2 separate regions of the Homo sapiens genome follow, and region 1 is linked to region 2. The links come from fine-mapping of genetic effects on gene expression. A gene starts in region 2. The other region holds a variant in brackets. All regions are shown on one strand. Distances are between the middles of the regions.

Region 1 (5,203 bases), 54 kb after region 2:
TAGGGGTTCTCTGCGCCCTGCAGGACTGTGGGTCTTTCCTCCCTCACTGGCCTCTGGTCCCTTCTCAGCTCTTCCCGCTGGGCTGACTGGCCTGGGGTTCAACGCACTGTCCTTAGGGTGCTGGAGAGGGCCCTACCTGGGGAGTGTGTACGTGTGTGTGGTGTAATGTGTGTGGAGTATGTAATGTTTGTGTTTGTGTGTGTCTGGTGTGTGGTGTGTGTGAGGGGTGTGTTGTGTGTGATGTTTGTGTGTAGGGTTTGTGTGGTGTGTATCTAGTGTGGAATATGTGTGGGGTGTATGTGTGTGTGTGTAGTGTGCATGTGTATGGTGTGTGTGTGGTGCATGTCTGGTATGTGTGTTGTTTGGTACCTGTGTGTGAGGGGTGTGTGTGGTATGTGGGGTGTGTGTGGTGTAGTGTGGATGTGTGTGGAACATGGCTGGTGTGTGCATGTGTGGGTACTGTGCATGTGTGTGGTGCATGTTTGGTGTGTGTGTTGTGTGTATGTGTGTGGGGTATGTGTGCTGCATGTCTGATGTGTGTGTTGTGTACGTGTGGGGTTTGCGTTGTGTTGTGGTGTGTGTGGTACGTGTGTTGTGTGTGTACAGTGTGGTACGTGTGGTGTGTATGGTATGTGTGGTGTGTGTATTGTGTATGTGTGTGGGGTATGTGTGGTGCATGTCTGATGTGTGAGTTGTGTATGTGTGGGGTGTGCATTGTGGTATGTGTGGTGTGTGTGGTACGTGTGTTTTGTGTGTGTGTAGTGTGTGTGGTATGTGTGGTGTGTGTGGTGTGTGTGTGTGTGTGTGTGTGTGTGTGTGTGTGTTGCTGGTTGTTCCCAGGCTCCCTAATTCTGCCTCTAACCCTGACACCTGCCCTTGGGGAAAGGAAGGTCAGGAATCCGTCTTTTTAGAAGCTCTCTAGGAGATTCCGATGCCCAGTGAAGGCTGAGAACAAGTGTTCTCACTTCCCCGGGGAGAAAAAGAGCATTTATTGGTGGATCATCAGGTGGTAGCCAGGTTTATATGGGCTCTCTGTTAATTCTCAAAACCAGCCCGCAAGGGAAGTGTTCCTTCTCATTTACTAACGAAGAAACTGTGAAAGGCCACACTATTAACCAGGACCAGGAAATAGCACAGACCCCTCCACCTCCCAAACCTTTTCTTTCTACCCTTTCTTCTCCCACCTTTTACTTCCTAGCCTCTGTCTTTGTTCGTGCAGTTTCCTCTGCCAGAGATCCTTTCCCTACCCACACTACCCCCAGTTCTCTCTATCAGAATCTGTGAGATCCAGCACAATTGCCACATCTTCCTCCATTGCTCCAGCCTGGGTTCATCCTGTGCATGACCCCAAGGAACCTATGGTTTGTGCAAGAGCTCTCTCTTTCTTCTAGAGCCTTCCGGACAAGGATCTAATTTTCAAAATTGGATTTCCAGGAGTACCTATCCTGGCATCTGGCACATGATGGGATCTCAAATAGGATTGATTATGTGTTAATATCATTGCTGGTACTGCTCACATGCATTCATTTATTCAGCCAGTGGGGGACCTGAGAGGTTTTAGGGGTGAACGTGCATACAGTGGTCCCAGGTGAAGCCATGAGGGAGGATGAGGTCTCCAAAGGAGCTCCTGTTCAGGAAGAAGGGACAGGGTCCCGGGAGGCTAAGGGCCCAGGGAAGTGGGTTGGGGAGAATGCCCACAAAGAGGGGCTGGCAAGGAGGACCAGGGCAGTGGAGGGATACCTGTTTCCTTCTTCCCCTCCTCGGCAGCCATCTGGTAGTCCTTAAGGGATGATTCTGGTCATGTGGAACTTGAATCCAGGGCAGGCTGGTGTGGCTGGGGACATGAGGGCTGTTAAGTGGTGATTTAGCTTACTTAAGGCCCTGCCAGCTCCCTTAGTCTTGGGGTAGGCCAGTATTGGGGAGACAGAGATGGGTGTGCATGTTGGTGTGTGGGGAGGGCAACTAGCAGCTGCCACTCTCCACCTGTCAGCAGGCTGGAAAACACAGGAAATGCTCCTGAAGGTGAGGTTGCTGTTCTTAGAACAGAGAAGAGAAAGAGATGGGGTTCCTGTTGGGCTAATCTGCAGAGGGCTTAGCCAGTTCCTCCCT[T/C]CTCCCCCTGGGGTAATGGATACTATGTTAGTTTTCTATTGCTGCTATAACAAATTATCACAAACTCAATAGCTTAGAACAACACAGATTCATTATTGTATAGTTCTGGAGATCAGAAGTCTGACACAGGTCTCACTGGCTGAAACTAAGGTGTGGGCAGGGCTGCATTCCCTTCTGGAGGGTCTAGATAATTTGTTTTCTTCCCAGCTTCTAGAGGCTGCCCACATTCCTTGACTTGTGGAGCCTTCCATCTTCAAAGCCAGCAATATTGCATCTCTATAACCATTCTTCCATAGTCATATCCCCCTCTGACCACAGACGGGTTCTCTGCTTTTAAGGGCCCGTGTGATTGGATTGGGCACCCCTGGATAACCTGGGCTACTCTCCTCAACTTAAGGTCCTTAACTTAATACACCTGCAAAGTTCCTTTTACCGTGTAAGGTAATGTGTTCACAGCTTCCAGGGGCTAGGTCATGGACATCTTTGGGGATCTGGCAGATGTCCATTTGGTTACACAGCGGGGTGCTCTAAGGTTCTGGTCAGCCCTGCTAGGGTTTATACAGCTTCATTCATTCTCAGAAGACTGGGAGAAAGGGGGATGCACTTGAAGTAAGGATCTACTGTGTGCTCAGCACTGTGTGAAACATGGTGCTTGGGCTGTTTTAATCCTCACAGCAATGAGGTAGGATAGGTTAATTTTATGCAAGGGGCAGAGGCTCAGAAAGGTCAATTATCTTGTCTAAGGCTCCAAGCCTGGGGTCTTTTCCTTGTCAACCAGTGTGTTTCTTTCTTGGAGACTTCCATGAAGTGAGGAGGCTGCGTGAAATGCAGGTAGGGGGCAAATAAGCTATCAGCACAAGGGGGTAGCCCTATATTGTAGCCAAAATGACCATGGGCTTAGCTTTTGTGGGTAGAAGTTTAGCTAAACTGTGAGAATCCAGGTGGGTCAAAACATGGTAATCTAGATCTTGAGCCTGTGATGGGATCCAGCCCAGAGGCTCTATGATGGATTGGGTGTGTTCAGCAGCTGGGATTTTCTATTTGAGACAGAAGAGCAGCCACCTCTATTGACCTAGGGACCCTTAAACCCCTGTCTGAGCCCATGTGAGCATTTGTCTGTAGGATCTCCCTGGAGATTACAGTGACACTAATTTATACTCTCTATATTTTCTACAATGAGAATGGATTAGCTTTATGACCTGAAAAAAATCTCAACAATGAATGTTACTTAAAAATGGCAAAGAATTGGCCAGGCACGGTGGCTCACGCCTATAATCCCAGCACTTTGGGAGGCCAAGGTGGGTGGATCATGGGGTCAGGAGCTCAAGACCAGCCTGGCCAAGATGGTGAAACCTCGTCTCTACTAAAAATACAAAAAAACTAGCTGGGCGTGGTGGCATGTGCCTGTAATCCCAGCTATTTGGGAGGCTGAGGCAGAGAATTTCTTAAACCTGGGAGGCGGAGGTTGCAGTGAGCCAAGATTGTGCCACTGCACTCCATCCTGGGGGACAGAGCAAGACTCCATCTCAAAACAAAACAAAACAAAAGATGGCATAGAATCCTTCTTGGAACCTTGTGCAGGTCAGTTTCCTCCCCCTGGTCTTCAGTTTCCTTAATTGTAAAGTAGGTGTTATGATTCCTCAGGACTCCTTAACTCACAAATATAAGGGAGATAAAAACCAGGAAGAGTAAAGCTAATTCCTTCCTGATCCCTACTCTCCAACCCCCACCCAGGGCTATTAACTTGGCTCTTAAGCCCTGGCCTTGGCTACCTGGAGTTTCTGGGGTGAGGTCTTTGTTTGTTGTGAGTTGAACAGAAACAAAGCTATGATTTGTCTCACTGTGAGGATCCACTGTTTCAAACCATAGAACACAGCCCTAGTGAGTTAGAGACCATGTTCCTCACTAAATCAAAGCAACAGACTTTTCTTGAGTGCCTACCATGTACCAGGACCTGTTTGGGTCATATGGAGGCCAAGACATAGTTTCGGCCATGGGCAGAGGGCTTGATGGGCATGGAGCTACCTGATCATCTGCTCTTGAACCCTCTAAGACAGTGGCCCTCAACGTTTTTGGCACCAGGGACTAATTTTGTAGAAGAAAATTTTTCCATGGATCGGGGAGGGGGGGATGGTTTTGGGATGAAACTGTTCCACCTCATATCATCAGGTATTAGTTAGATTCTCATAAGGAGTGTGCAACCGAGATCCCTGGCACACACAATTCACAACAGGGTTTGCGATCCTATGAGAATCTGATGTCCCTGCTAATCTGAGAGGATGTGGAGCTCAGGTGGTAATATGGTTGCTTGCCTGCCACTCACATCCTGCTGTGTGGCCCAGTTCCTAACAGGCCACAGACTAGTGCTAGTCCATGGCTTGGGGGCTGGGGACCCCTGCCCTAGGAGGCCACCTGAATCCTAGAGAGCCATGATGGGGGCACATTCCCTTTCTGGGCTCTAGTTTCTTTGTTGTAACAATGAAAGGGTTCATTTAAGTGGCTTCACAGTTATGTACCAGGCATTGCGCTGAGCTCAGGAGACAGTAATAATATATTAAGCCCTGTCCTCCAGGAACCTTCTAGCTATGAATTTATGTTTCTGGGGTCCTTAGTCTCAGGTTCAGAGTAGGGGCATTTTTTAATCCTTTGCCATTTTAGGAATTCCCTTCTTTTAACTTTTTTGCCCAATATAAGTCTTTCCCTTTTTTGCTTTCCTTCTTGTATACCTCCTCCCTTCCTCACACACGGCCATTAATACTAACTGACTTCTCAGGTTCTGCCATGTCGTGGCTCAGAACTGGGACCCACTCTGGTAAGGTAGATGGTTCCTCAAGGCTAAGTAATTGAGTTCTTACATGTGCTGGTCAGTGGCACCTACATCATTGGACGAGGAAAGCCCTAGACATGGCGCATCCACTGCTCCCCTTCCTCAGGCAGATGTGAGTTTCAGGACTCTCACTACCTACCTACATCAGGAGACCAATGGGATTGACATCTAGTAGAATTCTTCTCTTTCTGCTCCCCCATCCCCTTCACCAAACCCTTGACAAAAGTTCTGTTGTTGGAAGAAACTTGGTCCTTATAGTAGCTTATT
Region 2 (5,203 bases):
CAGGTACTGCTATGAAGGGGACAAGCCTCACAGGTTTGTGTAAATTCAGAAAGTCATTACTAGGGGCACAAAAGAAGCACTTAAGAGTAGATGGACCTAAGCGGATGCTATACTTTGAAGGTGTCCTCCAAAAGCATATGTTGGAAACTTAATCCCTAATGCAACAGTGTTGGGAGCTGGGACATCATGGGAGGGCTTTACCCTCATGACCTCATGAATGGCTTGAGGATGACTTTAGCTCTCAATCTCGATTTTTCTCTCTTTCTCACTCTCTTGTGCTCTCACCTTCCACAGTGGGATGATGCAGTAAGGAGGCCCTTGCCAGATGCTAGGCACCTTGATCTCAGATTTTCCAGCCTCCAGAACTGTAAGGAAATACATTTCTGTTCTTTATAAATGACCCAGTCTGTGGTATTCTTCTATAGCAGCACAAAATGGACTAATATGGGAGGGTTGCCAAGGATATCAACCATACATGAAAGGGGAAAGAGAAAGGACCAGGGAAGGTTCAGAAGCAATTCAGGGCTCTGGCAATGGGCAGCCAGAGGTATGATCCAGTAACAAAGCTGAAGTTAAGGAGCTAAACTTGATACAGAAACTCGGCAGATAAGCAGAGAGGAGGACATGGGTACATTTAACATCTCCTTCCTAACCAGGAAGGGAAAGGCAGAAAGGCCTGCAACCCAGATGTCTGTATAAGGCAAGTGAGGACCAGGCCATGTCAGCCTGTCACCAGGTCTGGGTCAGCACTGTGGGATGATAGTGAACTTAGGAATGTCTGTGGAAACATGTAAGTAGAGTAGATGTGATTCTATAGAATATTCGGACACTGAGTGTCTTACAGAATAAATCCTACTTGATGATGGGTCTGGCTAAGAGAAAAAACAAAACGAAACAAAGCAACAACAGCAACAAAAAAAACACTTCATTTAAAAACTGTCAGAATCAAACAAAATTATCTAGGTACTTTGGATATGGATATGATATTTCATACTCAGTATCTGACCATATGCTGAGCCATAAAACAAGTCCCAATAAATTCAAAATAATCAAAATCATACAGAGTATGTTTTCTGTTTACAACAGAATTGGATTATAAATCTGTTGATATTGCAAAAACCACAATTACTTTTGCACCAACCTAATATTTAGGACAATTCCATAGTTTGGAAATCAATCAACCTACTTCTAAATAATCCACGGGCAAAGAAGAAAATCACCAGGGAAAGTAGATAATGAAAGATAATGAAATACAGTTTTTCAAAATTTGGGTGATGTAGCTAAAGCAGTGCTTATAGGGAAATTTATAACTTTAAATGCTTATATTACAAAAGCAAGAAGACTTAAAGTCAATGACTTAAGGTACCACCTTAAGAATCCAGAAAAAAAGCAAAGTAAACCCAAAAGTAAACAAACAGAAGGAAATAACAAAGATAAGAGCAGAAACCAACGAAATAAAAGAGAGACAAACAACAGGAGAAAATAAACAAATTCAGCCATGTTTTGTGTGGCCAGAGAGAAGCCCAGCTCAGAGAGAAGCTGGGCGGGCTTCTCTGTGGCCACACGGATTGATTCATTTGGAGTGGGAGAGATAACATGAAATAATAGGTAATTACATCCTTTTGAGTTTTTTGTTTTGTTTTGTTTTGTTTTATTTTAAATAAGAGACAGGGTCTCACTTTGTGGCCCAGGCTGGAGTGCAGTGGTTCGATCTTAGCTCAGGGCAACTTACGTTCTTGATGCTTTTTGCTTTTCCCCCTCACAACCGAAAGAGAAAGTTTTTGCCAGCAGGTGGCAGCGCTGGTGCCTGAAAACGCCAAAAAGCATCGTCCTGGGTTGGCCCGGAGACTAACGATTGCCGCCGGGCTGACACGGGGCAGTCATCTGAAGACAGGAGACAGTCAATTCCAGAAAGCAAATCCCCACTCAAACTTAGAAAAAAGCGATTTTACAAAAACATCTGAACTCTAAATGTTGGTGGAGTTAAATCTCGAAAGACTTGGCTCTTCAAAGCCAGGGGTTCTTTACGGGAAAGTTGGAAATGGGCTTCAGAAAACCTCTCCCCGCATTGTATGCAAATCTGCCCCCCCCCTTTTCTTTTTCCCTGGGAGATCGTCCAGTTATCAGATTCTCAAAATGGACAGCGACTTAAAGCAATTAAAGACCACTGCGACAAATGCTCCTGCGAACACCACTCCGAAGTTAATGGCGCAGACGTCTGGACTTTAAAAGGTGGTGGTAAAGTGCGCTCAGGCATGGGTAGGAGGTGCGGCAGGCGGGGCACAGCTACTTGCTTTCATAATTTTTTTTTCTTCCTGATGGACCAATGCTGTGAAAAATCCTCAGTGGGGTTTTGGAGCCGAAAGGGAGCGACTGCAGTTTGCAGGCTTGCTATGTGTGCCAATCAAGGTGTTTCTCATAAATTTCCTCTTTTAATCCTTGCGGCAATCCTCTGAGTTCGGTGTTAACATCCTTAATATTATTCCTAAAAATCCATTAAGAGGGCTCTTAATGGAGTGCCAGCTTTTGTGGTCCTGGATTTTCAGTGGATGCACACACTGACCATTCCCCTCTCTCTTTTACATTCAAAACTTCCGTGAGATTTCCTTTGTTTAAATGAACTTTCCTTTATAGATAGCCTTTCATTTGTTTATTTTGTCTGCCTCTTTCAATCAAGAGGCACCCTCCCCTCACAATCGGCAGCATAAGCACAGACGTAAACGCAGGAACCAATGCGATTTTAGGTTGAATTTAGGACAGCGCTGGAACTTCACTTTACCCCTCTTGCGGTCACACGAGGTGGGCGGCGGCCCCGGCAGGGTTTGGGCGGGAGAAACGCGGTTCGGGACTCCGCTGCCGCCTAGGCGCGGGGCTGACCTGCGGGGGTGGGGTGGGGGGAGGGAGGTCGAGGCCCGGCCCCACGTGGCCGCTGCTGCCGGGCTCACCCCAGCCCCGCCCGGAGGCGCCCCGCGGCCCCGGCTAGCCAGGGCGGGCGGCCACCTCTGCCCTACTCCTTCCCTCCGCGTTCCGGGCCTCGGAGCCGCCTTGAGGAGGATGAGTCCCTGGAGCTGGTTCCTGCTGCAGACCCTCTGCCTCCTGCCCACGGGCGCAGCTTCGCGGCGCGGGGCGCCCGGCACCGCCAACTGCGAGCTCAAGCCCCAAGTAAGGCGCGCGTCGGGTGCTGGAGAGCCGGCCTCTCTGCACCTCCTTGGGATGGTTTCCCTCCGAACCCCGCGAAGCAGCGCTTTCGGACCCCGAGCCGACTTCCGCGGCTGGGCTTTCACCTAGCACCGCGGCGCTCCTTGCTCGCTCTCCTCTCCGTGCCCTCGGGTTCCCCTTTCCCGCGGGGGCGCAGCCCGCAGGCTCCAAGCGACTCAGTGCCCTGGCCTTTGCCCTCCGCCAGCCCAAGGGCGTCCGAGAGAGCCTCTGGGGTCTCGCCAGCCATTTTCGCGAGCTTTCGGGGGACGGATCCGCCAGGGAGTACCGGACCAGGAACTTGGGCACATTTATTTGAAGTTTCTTCTTCCCTCTCTTCCTTAAGAGTTTAATTTCACCTGCTCTTATCAAAATATTAACAGCGCCCTGAAGCTGCTTGGCTTAACCTTCATATGTTCAGTGCCTGAGTTAGAAGGGACTTTAGGGAGTTGAAGCCATTTCCCTTGTTTTTACCGATCTGGGAAACTGACACTCAGCGGGGGACCTGTGTGCTCCAGGTCACAGAGTGCGTTCGCGGAGTGACCACTGTCCGAGCCTTGCGTGTCCAGCCGGGCGCTTTAGATGTTCGCATCAACGTTTTGTGGGTGAGGGAAACCCAGGCAAGGGAGGCTCAGTGACCTGCCCGAGTCAACACAGCTCTATAGCGGACAGGTCTTGCGTCTCCGAGGCTGGACCTCTTTCGAGATGAATATTTCCTTCTCTGATCAGTTTTCCTACACTCAGAATTTTCTGTGGTTCTCGAGTCCCTCTCTTCTGAGTGCGGCATAGGTTGAATTTCGCGCATTTGTTCCGGTGGGTTTGATATCTGTGCGTCCCTGGCTCTGGAGAGGGCCATGCCAGGCTTATCCTTCTGGTGCGCCCGCGACGCGGGGGTGGGGGGGGTTGGGGGTGGGTTGAGGGAGTGGGGGCTGGAATTTAGAGGCCCACCTTTGATGACACCTGCGCAGCTCCCCGGTCTGCCTCCACCCCTGGCCATTCGCAATTTTATTCCTCATCCCAACTGCAGCAAAGCAGAGGACGGCCAAATAGAGCCGATCCTGGAGCTCCGGGCTGGGAAGACGCACGGTGTTCGCCTCTGTAAGGCGTCGCGGGGCTGCGGACGGCCCTCTACCAAGGCAGGAGGCGCGGCAGCTGGAGAGGGGAGTCTGCACCAGGCATGGTTTCAAACTCTGTTGCGGTGTGGCCGCTTCATGCTTGTTAGACAAGGCAGGAGTCCATCTCCTCACAAGAAAGCACATTGCCTTTCACTTCTGCAAAACCTATTACCGACTGGTAATTATGACGAGTGAGTCTGGATAAGATCTCTCTCCTTTAGAATCTGTCTTTATGAGTCCTTTATTCCATCGTCCTACCTTTTGGTCTCAGGACTCCTTTACGTTACAAAAAATTATCAAAGAAGCCCGGCATGGTAGCTCACTCCTGTAATCCCAGCACTTTGGGAGGCCAAGGCGGTGGATCACTTGAGCCCAGGAGTTGCAGACCAGCCTGGCCAACATGGCGAGACCCTTGTCTCTACAAAAAAATAAAAAAAATTACCAGCGTGGGGACATGTGCCTGCAGTCCCAGCTACTCCAGAGACTGAGGTGGAAGGAAACCTTGAGCCTGGGAGTGGAGGCCAGTGAGGTGTGATTGTGCCACTGCACTCCAGCTTGGGTGAAAGAGCGAGACCCTATATCCAAAAAAAAAAAAAAAAAAGTATTGAAAACCTCAAAGACTTTTACTTTATGTGAATTAATGGAGATAGTAGTAAAACACAACATAGCACACATTCCATTAGCCATCAGAGCAGTGACCTCATCACACACATGTAGCCTCCAGAAAATTCTACAGTACCTTGTGAGAAAATGAGGGTGAAAGGAAAATATCTTAGTTTTATAAAAACAGTTTTGACCTTATAGACTCCCTGAAAGGCTCTTGGGGACACCCACAGGTCCCTGGACCATACTTTGAGAATTGCTGTTCTATTCTGTGGGCAAACTCTGTCTTA

What was found. PIP is the estimated chance that this variant, and not a neighbour inherited with it, causes the effect.
Region 1: its variant is fine-mapped to the expression of TRABD2A in whole blood (TOPMed, PIP above 0.99). The same link has a PIP of 0.9 or more in blood mononuclear cells.

Annotation. Positions count from the first base shown.
Region 1 is chr2:84,824,985-84,830,187 of GRCh38, reverse strand. The region is part of intron 5 of TRABD2A (TraB domain containing 2A); the gene reads left to right. Among named protein-coding and RNA genes, the nearest start is that of TRABD2A, 53 kb to the left of the region's middle. The variant T/C (reference allele first, on the strand shown) is at 2,110.
Region 2 is chr2:84,878,891-84,884,093 of GRCh38, reverse strand. TRABD2A (TraB domain containing 2A) reads left to right here and starts at 3,010. Exons shown (of 7, transcript NM_001277053.2): 1 at 3,010-3,162. The coding sequence starts at 3,055. RefSeq lists a silencer at 2,906-3,035 and enhancers at 2,765-3,265, 3,266-3,768.